Homo sapiens: one gene and its partners. The protein of the gene in region 3 interacts with the protein of the main gene of each other region in a pairwise test. Each region holds a gene or a part of one and is shown on either strand. Other genes may lie near its edges. The genes, in order: ARHGEF7, EXOC1 and SRGAP1.

Region 1 (3,657 bases), on a different chromosome or scaffold from region 3:
GTGCCCAGCACATCTACTCATTTACCCTGGTAATGACCTCACTGCCCCCACCAGTGGATATCATTCATCTCATTTTTAGGAGGAAGAAACTAGGACTCCGAGAGGTTAGACAGGTGCCGGAAGTCACAGAGCAAATGGCTGCGGGAACAAAGCCAGGTGTGCCTGACTCTGAAGCACGCAGAGGACCGGGTCTCCCAGTGTCTCCAGGCAGGGACCCGTGGGTTCGGGGGATGCCAGTCCTCCCATCTCCCAGCGATGCACGTGGTAGAGTTGCGTGCCCAAAGGGATGATGTGCCTCTGCCACCTCCCTCGTGCAGTGAGAGACGCGTGGGCGTCAAGCCTACACAAGACTCCAATCCAAACGGCTAAAATCCACCCTACACAAGAACAAACGGCTCTGCCCCCACTCACCTCACAGCCCCCATCGCCTCCACTCTTTACATTTTAGAGTGATCAGTGGCCTCTAAAGGGAGAGAGATGTTCGTGTGTACATAGTACTTGAATTTTAAAAGTGTGTGTGGTGTAGATGCACACAGTTTGAAATCTTGGACTAAGTGGAAATCTGGTAAGCCCTACAGAGTAGGGAAGCCCAGAAACTACAGTGAGTTATTGGATGGTACAGGAACACGGAACACACGTTCTGCGGCCGGGGAGAAAGGCCCAGACACAGACTTCTGCAGGAGCTTCTGCAGGTTCCCCCAGGGCAAGGGGCCCTACCCTGGGTGCCTTTGGGGTCTGTCTACTGAAGGGCAGAGCTGCTTCCAGATGTCCCGAGAAGTGAGACACCTGCAGTGGCTCCAGGCACTCCTGAGGGCTCCCACTCTGCCCCTGTGGCCGGTGACCTGAGCCAGCCCCTCCAGTCCTCACTTTTGTCCCCCCTGGGTGCTCAGTTACACTGCTGCCTCCGTCTCCTTTCCTGATCTGGTTTGTAAATTTCTGAAGGCAGTGGTTGCGAATCTTCCCCTAAGTTCAGTATAGGTGGCAGAATCAGTCTTGTTTTCCATGAGAAAGCTCACAGTCTTGAGCTGGAATCTTCCGCCTCCGAGTGCAGCCAGATGACCTGGGGCAAAGCTAACTGCCAGACCTCAGGGTCCTCATCTGCAGTATGGGTATTGCGAGGGACAGCGCCTGCAAACGAGAGGAGCATGCTGCCTGCCATGCTGGGCAGACATCTTATTCTCTTTTAAGATGTATAGAAAGGCAGGCAGTGCCTAAAGAAAGGAGGCGAGCAGGCAGATTCTGGAGTGACTTCTATTAATAGAATGAGGGCCGGGTCCTGAGATGGCATCCTTTGGACTGGGCTTGGAGAGTTCACAGAGCAGCTGCCCCTGAGAAAATGGAATGCCACATGTGCCAGCACTCCTTCCCCCACTCCCTCAACCCCCGTCAGACGTGTCTGTGTGTGCGTGTGTGCGTGTCTATGTACACGCATGTGTCTGTGTGTGTGTGTATTTACATGCATGTGTTTACGTATGTGCATGTTTGTGCAGGCATGCATGCGTGTGTGCATAAGTTCGTGTGTGCACATGCATGTGCAAGTGTGCATGTATGCGTGTGTGTATGCTTGTGTGTGTGCTCTCCTGTGTCTGTGTGATGCCAACATAAACACTAGTTTCTAGTCTGGTTCTCAGGAAATCTCTTCAGGCACTCCTGATTTAAATTGAATTTCAGTTTGTTTGCTTTCTTTTTAGTGAGCCAGCAAATGCAGTTCCAGCTACCTTCTTCCCTAGGCCTGAAACCCAAACAAGAATCACACTGGTTCAGGGTTGAGACAGGACTATAAAGTCACATGCTTCAAAAGGAAATGTTTATTATTGCAAAATTCACTATTCTGGAACCATATTCAGGGTAGTTTAGTTAGAAGCAACTTGATATAACCAGTTATTCAGTTTGCAGGGTTTAAAGAAGTCTCCTTAAAAACACAGTCTGGAGATACCATATTATAACTTCTCTATAAGTGACTTAGCCAATCAACAAGTCTTTATGACGGCTACAGGTCACGGGCCTGAGTGAGAACCTTACCCTACCACCACATGTGATCACTCATCACGTTCTTTTTAGGGCCAAAGGACCTAAGAAAAGGCACATTTCTAGCAGGTGAGCACTTCTGCTTCTCCTCACCCCAGCCCCTAACCAACCCCAGAATCCTGACACTGAGCAGAAAGTGAGTCTCCAGTTTACCTAGAAAAAAGTATTTCCTTTTTTCCTATGCAACATCAGATTTGCTGATTTTCTGCAAGCCTGTGGAAAATCACCTAGGGCTGCCAGGTTACAGTTTGGGAAATGCAAACCATATTCTTACCCACACGTCAGCAAAGTCTTGGGTCTGACCTGCTCAAATGCTGGTCTTTTTAGCTCCTTGATTCTTTTGCTCCTTCTCATCCATATCTGACATTACGACTCTTGACTTCCTTCTGCCTCATGCTGTTCTTGTCTTTCGAGTTACATTTTCTGTACTGGAACCCCCAAGACTCTATTATTTAGGTTTTGCAATCTCCCCTAGCACCTGGCATTGTGCAATCAGATCAATAGCTAATAAACTGATCTGGTTCAAATGTAGAAACAACCTGTCATGAGCTGAACTGTGCTCCTCCAGCATTCGTATTTTGAAGTCCTAACCCCCAGTATCTCAGGATGGGGCCTTATTCAGAAATGAAGTTAATGCAGATGTAATCGGTTAAGATGAGGCCATACTGGGGTAGGGTGCCCCTAATGCAATTCCACTGATGTCCTGCTAAAAAGGAGGAATTTGGACACAGAGAAGAAACCACAGCACGGACATCATGTGAAGATTGGACTTGTGTTGCCACAAGCCAGGAACTACCAGAAGCCTGAGAGTGGCCTGGGACAGACCCCTCCTTGGAGCCTTCTGAGGGCACGAGGCCCTGCAGGTACCTTAATCCCAGACTTTGGGCCTCCAGAGCTGAGAGACAAATGCCTCCACATCCAGCACTAAGACCCGAGGCAGCGTCTGATTTTCAATTACATTCCACAAACACCTAGCCAGGGTTCTCGGGAGCACATCACATGGATTACACAGGAAGGTTCTCTGTGTTCTGTTCTCCTGGGACACACAGAGAAAGAACCAAGTTCCTTGAGTTTTTTATAGTGAGTTAAGAGACTTCATTTGTTGCATTCACAAGTGAAATTAAAAGAGCATTTCATGATTTCCATGATTTTAATGTGTTGTATTAGTCTTATAGAAATTTTCCATCCTCTACAATTCATGTATCTTGATTTCACCTCCTTTGACTAAATACCCTAGGGATGTTTAAAGTGAATTTGTGAGAAAAGGGCTTCCAGGGCTCCCTAGACGTCATGACCTCTGCTCACGGGAGGAGTGTGGGAAGCCGAAGACATGGGCAGCCCAGCCAAACATCCTGACCCCTCCTGGAGAAAACCAAAGTGCAGGATCTCCAGATACAGAGAAGGCGAAAACTTTTTAATCCCATTTTCCTCTCCCCTACAGCAGAAAACATCTGTCCAGTATAATGAAAAGTGTCTCTTTTCTGAACTGTTCATGTAAAGTTTATAATTCCATCTTCTCACTGTCTAACCTTCCACCTTAAAAGCAAAGCGGGAACCTGGGTGGAAAGTTTCCTTTAAATGAGCAGAAGAATCTGACACGCCGTGAACGTCCTCTCTGCTCCCTCCACC
Region 2 (3,626 bases), on a different chromosome or scaffold from region 3:
ACATTGTTAATATTGTAGAGTTCCTTGTAATCTTTTGATGTGTGAATACATACAGGAGATTAAAATTTCATGTCCCACTTTACATTTAATATTGTTTTTTCCTAAATATAAATTTTAATGGCTGCATAATATTTCACACAATGACTGAACCACAATTATTATTCATTCCTCTAGTACTAGATATTTAACATCCCACTCCCCCTTCTTTTTTTGGACTTGGCAAATCTAGTGAGACTTTAGAAAATCTACTATAAATATATTTGTCATAAATTTTTTTTGTATATAAGTATTTACCCATCTTACTGATTAAATTTCCAGGACTATAATTACTCTGTTGAAGAGCATAACTTTAAGTATTTGAAAGATTCTTCAGTATATATACAAACTGCTTCCTAGGAAAGCTCAACCAATTTATATTTCTGTCAACAGTGTATGAGGTTGCTACTTCACTATACCATCATAAGCATTATGACAATTTATAACAATAGTTGCCAGAGTAAAAAAAGTTTGTCATTTTATTTTATAATTCTTTGGCTATAAATAAGGTTAACCTGCTTTTATATGTTTAGTAGTGATTCAGCCCCTTGCCCCATTTATAAATTGGGGTCTTAGTGCTTTTCTTATTGATTTTAGTAAGATTTTTTATATTAAATATACTGACTCTGTTATATTATTGTAACTATTATTCCCAGGTCTTCTTTTATATATATACTTTTATTGACTGGCATAACTGTATTTGAGCACGATACAAAGAATTAATGCTGACAAACCCCATTCCCTCTCATTACTTTTTTCTAAAATTTTCTTAGTGATTATTCATTAAATTATCATTCTTTGAGAAGTTATTCTTAGTGCTTTAAAAATTTTGTTTTTACATAAGCTCTTAATTGGTAGACAGGAAATACATTGTTTTTCAGTATATTTGCTTTAAATTTTGTCACTTGACCAACACCAGTAATTTCAACATATCATATACAGGTGGTGATAATCTCGTCTCTGTTTTCCATATCTCTTATTTATGTTTCAGGTCTTGTTGAACTGGCTAGTGCTTCAACAACAATGCTAAATAATAAAGGATCTAACAATATTTCTGCTTTAAATTGATTTCAGAGGGAATGTCTCTAACGTTGCAGTTAAGTATCATGTAAGCTTTAGGCCTGAGATAGATCTTTTATCCAGTTAAAGGAATATTTGTCTGTTCTTAAGTTTTATAAGGAATTAGTTCTGCATTTGATTAAATGTCTTTCAAGTATTTCTTTGAATTGTTGACAGCAGATACATATTCTTTTTTTTTGTTTTGTTTTGAGACTGAGTCTTGCTCTGTCGCCCAGGCTGGAGCGCAGTGGTGTGATCTCCACTCATTGCAACCACCACCTCCTAGGATCAAGTGATTCTCCTGCCTCAGCCTCCCAAGTAGCTAGGACTACAGGAGCGTGCCACCACGCCCAGTTAATTTTTTTTTACATTTTTAGTAAAGACGGGGTTTCACCTTGTTAGCTAGGATGGTCTCGATCTTCTGACCTCGTGATCCGCCTGCCTTGGCCTCCCAAAGTGCTGGGATTACAGGTGTGAGTCACCGCGCTATTTTACTCTAACTTCAAGTTAAGAGCTTATAAAAGATAACTATATTGCAGACAAAGTTAGTTTAAAAGGTTCATTTAAGCTTTCACTATCTTGTAAAGTTCCCTAAAATCATCATTTCTTAACTTTAATTAACAGACTTACTCTGGGAAATGACTCAAGTAAGGAAAAAAAAAGAAGGGAAAGAAAAGTAAAAGGCAATGTAGAAAGCAATTTTTGGTTTTTCTTTTATCTTAATAATATTTTTGAAATTTCCACCTAGACATTGTAAACTTGGTCATTTATAAAGTAAGAAATGGGAAAGAGTAACGGCAAAGCCTAATCTAGGTTCATCCCCCAGCTTTGTAATTTATAAGCTATTATGATGTCGGGCAAGTTTTTTTACTTTCAGTTTCTTCATTTGTGAAATGGGGATAATATTATCTTAGCTTACACATCATTGTTTATAAGAATTAAAAGAAATAATGCATAATAGAATACTAGTACAATTATCATTAAAATATAGTAGATAAATAATGTATAAAAATAATGTACAGAAAGAAGAAATAAAATATATAGCATCTAGCAGTGTCTGGCACACTGGCAGCTTCAATAACTGAGTCCCCTGTGCACCAACACATGAGAAAATTTAAGATAAATGTCTGCAGGTTATTCATATGCAAACTTATGTGTATAGGTTCAAAAGTAGGAAAAATACTGAATGAAAATATATTTACATTTAGTTTTTCAAGAGGTTGTCCTAAAGAGTAAATGACATAAGACTGAAGGTGATCTGTGTATTTTTGTTTGGCTTCTTTTTTTTCTGCTTCTAGACATGAGATTTTCAATCGAGAAAGAGTTGCAAAAATATGGTGAAAGTTTTCCATCATAACCACATCCCTGGGGGTCTTCTGGCTTTCATTTGCTACTTTCTCCACTAAAACCAAAACAGAAAAAATAAAATAACATCTCTGAGTATGACCATATTTAGCTATAAACATTTATACTATTAATTTTTTTTCATTTGTAAGTTTAAGAATTAAGCACATTTCTGGACTTAATACAATATATTGTAATGGGAGTCTTCAGATCTACCTAATCATAATAAAAAGTCATCCTAAAACAGTCCCATGTGTATATGGAAATTCAGTATATAATAAAAGTAGCTTTTCAGATCAATGGAGAAATGATGAATTATTCAAAATGTGTTAGGACAACCGGCTGGACCATTTTAATATATGAAATTTAAGTTCCTACTTTACATCTTGCAGTCAAATTCTAAATTGCTAAATTATTTAAAATGTAAAAAGCAAACAAATAATACAATCATAAGTACTAAAGAAAATATAACTAATAGAAAAATAATAATTTTGCAATAGTGTGACCTTGCTAAGAATGGCCCAAAATTTAGAAGACTGTTAAGGGGAAAGATAAATAAATTGGAGATAAAATTTGAAAATTCATGTAAAGTAAAGACACCATATACAAAATCAATGAAATGCAAAATAAAATAGTGAGATAATTTATAGCCTATCAGGTTGACAAAGAATAAAAAGATTGGTAATACCTAGTAAAACCCAGCATTGGTACAGCTGTAATGCAACTGCTCATAGCACTAAACTGACATAAGCTTTCTGTATCACAATTTGGGAAAAGACTTGAGATACATAAATCCTTTGACCCAGTAATTCCATTTCTAGTAATTTACCCTAAAGAAATTATTTGACAAGTATACAAAGATAGATAAACTAAAAAAATCCTAAATGTTTATTAATAGAAGATTTGGTAAATGGATAATGACATATGGATGACTATGCAATCATTAAAAATGATTATGTTTATCTATATTAACTAACTAAGAAAGATACTAAGATTATATAGAGTCCAGCAGCTTCAAAAATAGTGTGTCAGGTATGACAACACTTTTATATTAAAGAAAGCACACATACAATATGCCCATATATAGAAGAGAGGGACAGGGAATTTAAAAGTTTGGAAGAATAAAAATTTAACATTATCTCTGTACAACAAGATTAAAAATGATCTTTACTTTCTTCTTGATTTGA
Region 3 (3,657 bases):
ATCTAGTAAATTTTGTCTCCATTCCTCTTACTGCTTCAGGGATGATACGTTTTCAGACACTCTGAGCCAAAAAGCCGACAGTGAGGCCAGCAGTGGGCCAGTCACGGAAGACAAGTCCTCATCCAAGGACATGAACTCCCCGACAGACCGTCATCCTGACGGCTATTTAGCCAGGTAAGTAGAGCCTGGGAATCAGGCCCCTAAGCCTCCGCTCCTCCTGGGGCCATGAGGAGCCACTGCACCTCAGCCTTGCAGTACTGCCCGGTGTGATAAGCTCTTCTGTTTTCTCCCTGTTTCTGTGAATGTCTAGGCAACGAAAAAGAGGAGAGCCACCCCCTCCAGTAAGGCGTCCTGGCAGGACCAGTGATGGCCATTGCCCGCTCCACCCTCCACATGCCCTTTCTAACTCCTCAGTTGACCTAGGGTCCCCAAGCCTTGCCAGTCACCCCCGGGGCCTGCTGCAGAACCGTGGCCTCAACAATGACAGTCCTGAGCGGAGGCGCAGGCCTGGCCATGGCAGCCTGACCAACATCAGCCGGCACGACTCCCTCAAGAAGATCGACAGCCCTCCCATTAGAAGGTCCACGTCATCAGGGCAATACACGGGCTTCAATGACCACAAGCCACTGGACCCAGAGACAATTGCTCAGGTACGATGCTTTTAATTACATATTGCATTTTAAGTACCTAAGTGTGATGTAGGAGGTGTGAAAGATTTACTTTATTTACTTTTTACTTTATTTACTTTATATTTCTGTATAGAACCAACTAAAGAAAACAGAAACAAAACCAGCTCATTCTTTAACTTAGGCCCTGAGTCTTTTTTGAACAATTTGTTACTGAAAGGGCCCAAAGGTTCATAGTGATTTAAACAGAAACATGACAAAAACGTAGGACCAGGACACTCAAACCTATCATTGTGAATAGCCAGAAAAACTTTGAAAAAGAAGAATGGGAAAGCAGTGGCCCTGCCAGATCCTAAATGCATTCTAAAGCTAGTAAAACAGACAGATGGATGAAACAGAATGGAGAGCCCAGAAACAGAAAAACCTTAAAACAGTAGTCCCTCCTTATCTGCAGGGCATATGTTTCAAGACCCCCAGTGGATGCCTGAAGCCACAGATAGTGCAAACCCCTACTGTATATGATAAAGATGGCACTTTCAACTTAGAAAAGATGAGACCTAATAAATAATGTGATCAATAATAGATAGATATTTGAAGAACAAGTCTGGATCCTATGTACCTCCTGAACACATTCAGGTCTTTGCTTCCCAACAGTGACTGCAGAGGGGCTGTGTAGTTTTCTTCTAATGACTAAAATTGACCAAGTAAAAGGGAAACAATACTAATAAATTTGCCCATCATTCTACCATTTTTCCCTCTGGTTCTGGCTCTTTTCACAGCACAGGCCATGAGAACATATGTTCGTAGGCCTAGTGGGTGGCTTACACCTGTAATCCCAACACTTTAGGAGGCTGAGGCAAGAAGATAGCTTGAGGTTAGGAGTTTGAGACAAGCCTGGTCAATATAGCAAAATCCCGTGTCTAAAAAAAAAAATTTTTTTTTAATTACCTAGGTATATTAGGATTCTCTAGAGGGACAGAATTAATGGAATATATATACATATAAAGGGGAGTTTATTAAGTATTAACTCACACAATCACAGAGTCCCACAATAGGCCATCTGCAGGCTGAGGAGCAAGGAGAGCCAGTCCAAGTTCCAAAACTGAAGAACTTGGAGTCTGATGTTCAAGGGCAGGAAGCATACAGCACGGGAGGAAGACGTAGGCTGGGAGGCTAGGCCAGTCTAACCTTTTCATGTTTTTCTGCCTGCTTTATGTTCACTGGCAGTTAATTAGATGGTGCCCATCCAGATTAAGGGTGGGTCTGCCTTCCCCAGCCCACTGACTCAAATGTTAATTTCCTCTGGCAACCCCCTCACAGACACACCCAGGAGTAACACTTTGCATCCTTCAATCCAATCAAGTTGACACTCAGTATTAACCATCACAAGTCTACCCCTTGTCAACTTGAACCCATAAACATCTCCTGAGATCGTACATAATCTTCAAATAAAAACAATAATGTCATAATTACGCCTAACATGATACAACTGTCCTTTCCTATAACCGGAAACACACCAATCCCCAACCCAAATGCTATTACATAAAGTTAACAATACTTAAATGCTGATAGGAAGTCAATATAATCTTATGTCACATGCTAAAGGAAAAAGGAAATAAAATGAAGATATTTTCCTAGTACAAGTGTATACATGCACAAACATGTTTTTAACGAAAGAAGGAAATACTCATGACAATTACAGTCCCTGTTTCCACGTGGTCATAGCTGGTATTGATGACTACCTTCTACTACCCATTCCGTATTCCCTTTGCCTTCAGCAAGCACCTCAGCAGGTCGTGGTTGTTGTTGTTGTTGTTGTTGTTGTTGTTGTTTTCCTGGCGGAGTGACCCAAACCTTCATTCCTGAAGGGTCTGGGCCATTTGTAGTCCTGCCTGGATTGGGCTATTGTAGTTTCCCATTGACCTTAATCACAGAGCGTGGTAATACTAAGAAACGCCCTAATGGATCTCCTGTATTCCATGCACACTCTTTTTTACCTGCATCGTGGAGTAGTCGACTGATTTCATCTTGATAGTCTGAGTCAGTCACCTTAGCCAACACTGTAACTCCCTTCTTAGTCTGTTGCCTTAAAGGTAGGAGGAGCCCAAAGTGTCCAGGTGGCAATCTTAACTCAATGGCATTGTTGCTGTGTCTCCTGGTGGCACATTCCTCCCTCTGGAACTGAGACCTCTAGGCCAGCAGAACATAATGTCGCGGGAACAGGAAGTAAAAATGTTGCTAGGGGGTCACTAGGGATAATGATGAATGGTGCCACTTCCACTTCCACCTCTTGATTCCTGGACCCGTGAATCCTGGCTATGGGAGAAACTGCACCATGTATTGGACACAGATTCAGAGCATACACAGCCTTCTGGGGAACTTTGCCCCAGCCCTGCAAAGTATTGTCACCTAGTTGGTGTTGCAATTGTGACATCACAAGACCAATCCACCATTCTGTCAATCCAGCTGCTTCAGGATGATAGGGAGCATGGTAAGACCCATGAATTCCATGAGCATGAGCCCACTGCCACTCTTCTTTAGCCATAAAGTAAGTGCCTTGGTCAGAGGTAATGCTGTGTGGAATACCATCATGGTGGATAAGGCATTCCATGAGTCACAGATGGTAGTCTTGGCAGAAGCATTGTGTGCAGGATAGGCAAACCCATATCCGGAGTAACTGTCTATTCCAGTGAGGACAAACCTCTGCCCTTTTCATGATGGAAGAGGTCCAGTGTAATCAACCTGCCACCAGGTAGCTGGCTGATCACCCTGAGGAATGGTGCCATATCGAGGGCTGTGTTGGCTTCTGCTGCTGGCAAATTGAGCACTAAGCAGTGGCCATAGCCAGGTCAGCCTTGGTGAGTGGAAGTCCATGTTGCTGAGCCCATGAGTAACCTCCATCCCTGCCACTATGGCCACTTTGTTCATGGGCCCATTGAGCAAGAACAGGGGTGGCTGGGGAAAGAGGCTGAATGGTGTCCACAGAATGGCTCATCCTATCCACTTGATTATCAAAATCCTCCTCTGCTGA

What was found.
Region 1: the proteins of SRGAP1 (region 3) and ARHGEF7 interact in binary tests that used the Homo sapiens proteins (3 or more experiments, as listed by UniProt).
Region 2: the proteins of SRGAP1 (region 3) and EXOC1 interact in a two-hybrid assay, tested with the Homo sapiens proteins (one large-scale study listed by IntAct).

The regions. Positions count from the first base shown.
Region 1 is NC_000013.11:111,118,266-111,121,922, reverse strand, and holds part of ARHGEF7 (rho guanine nucleotide exchange factor 7), read right to left. Parts: intron 1-3,657. UniProt on the Homo sapiens protein: Acts as a RAC1 guanine nucleotide exchange factor (GEF) and can induce membrane ruffling. Functions in cell migration, attachment and cell spreading. Promotes targeting of RAC1 to focal adhesions. May function as a positive regulator of apoptosis.
Region 2 is NC_000004.12:55,898,556-55,902,181, reverse strand, and holds part of EXOC1 (exocyst complex component 1), read right to left. Parts: intron 2,498-3,626; coding exon 2,298-2,497; intron 1,348-2,297; exon of another isoform or gene 1,028-1,347; intron 1-1,027.
Region 3 is NC_000012.12:64,127,551-64,131,207, forward strand, and holds part of SRGAP1 (SLIT-ROBO Rho GTPase-activating protein 1), read left to right. Parts: intron 1-39; coding exon 40-174; intron 175-310; coding exon 311-650; intron 651-2,623; exon of another isoform or gene 2,624-3,182; intron 3,183-3,657. UniProt on the Homo sapiens protein: GTPase-activating protein for RhoA and Cdc42 small GTPases. Together with CDC42 seems to be involved in the pathway mediating the repulsive signaling of Robo and Slit proteins in neuronal migration.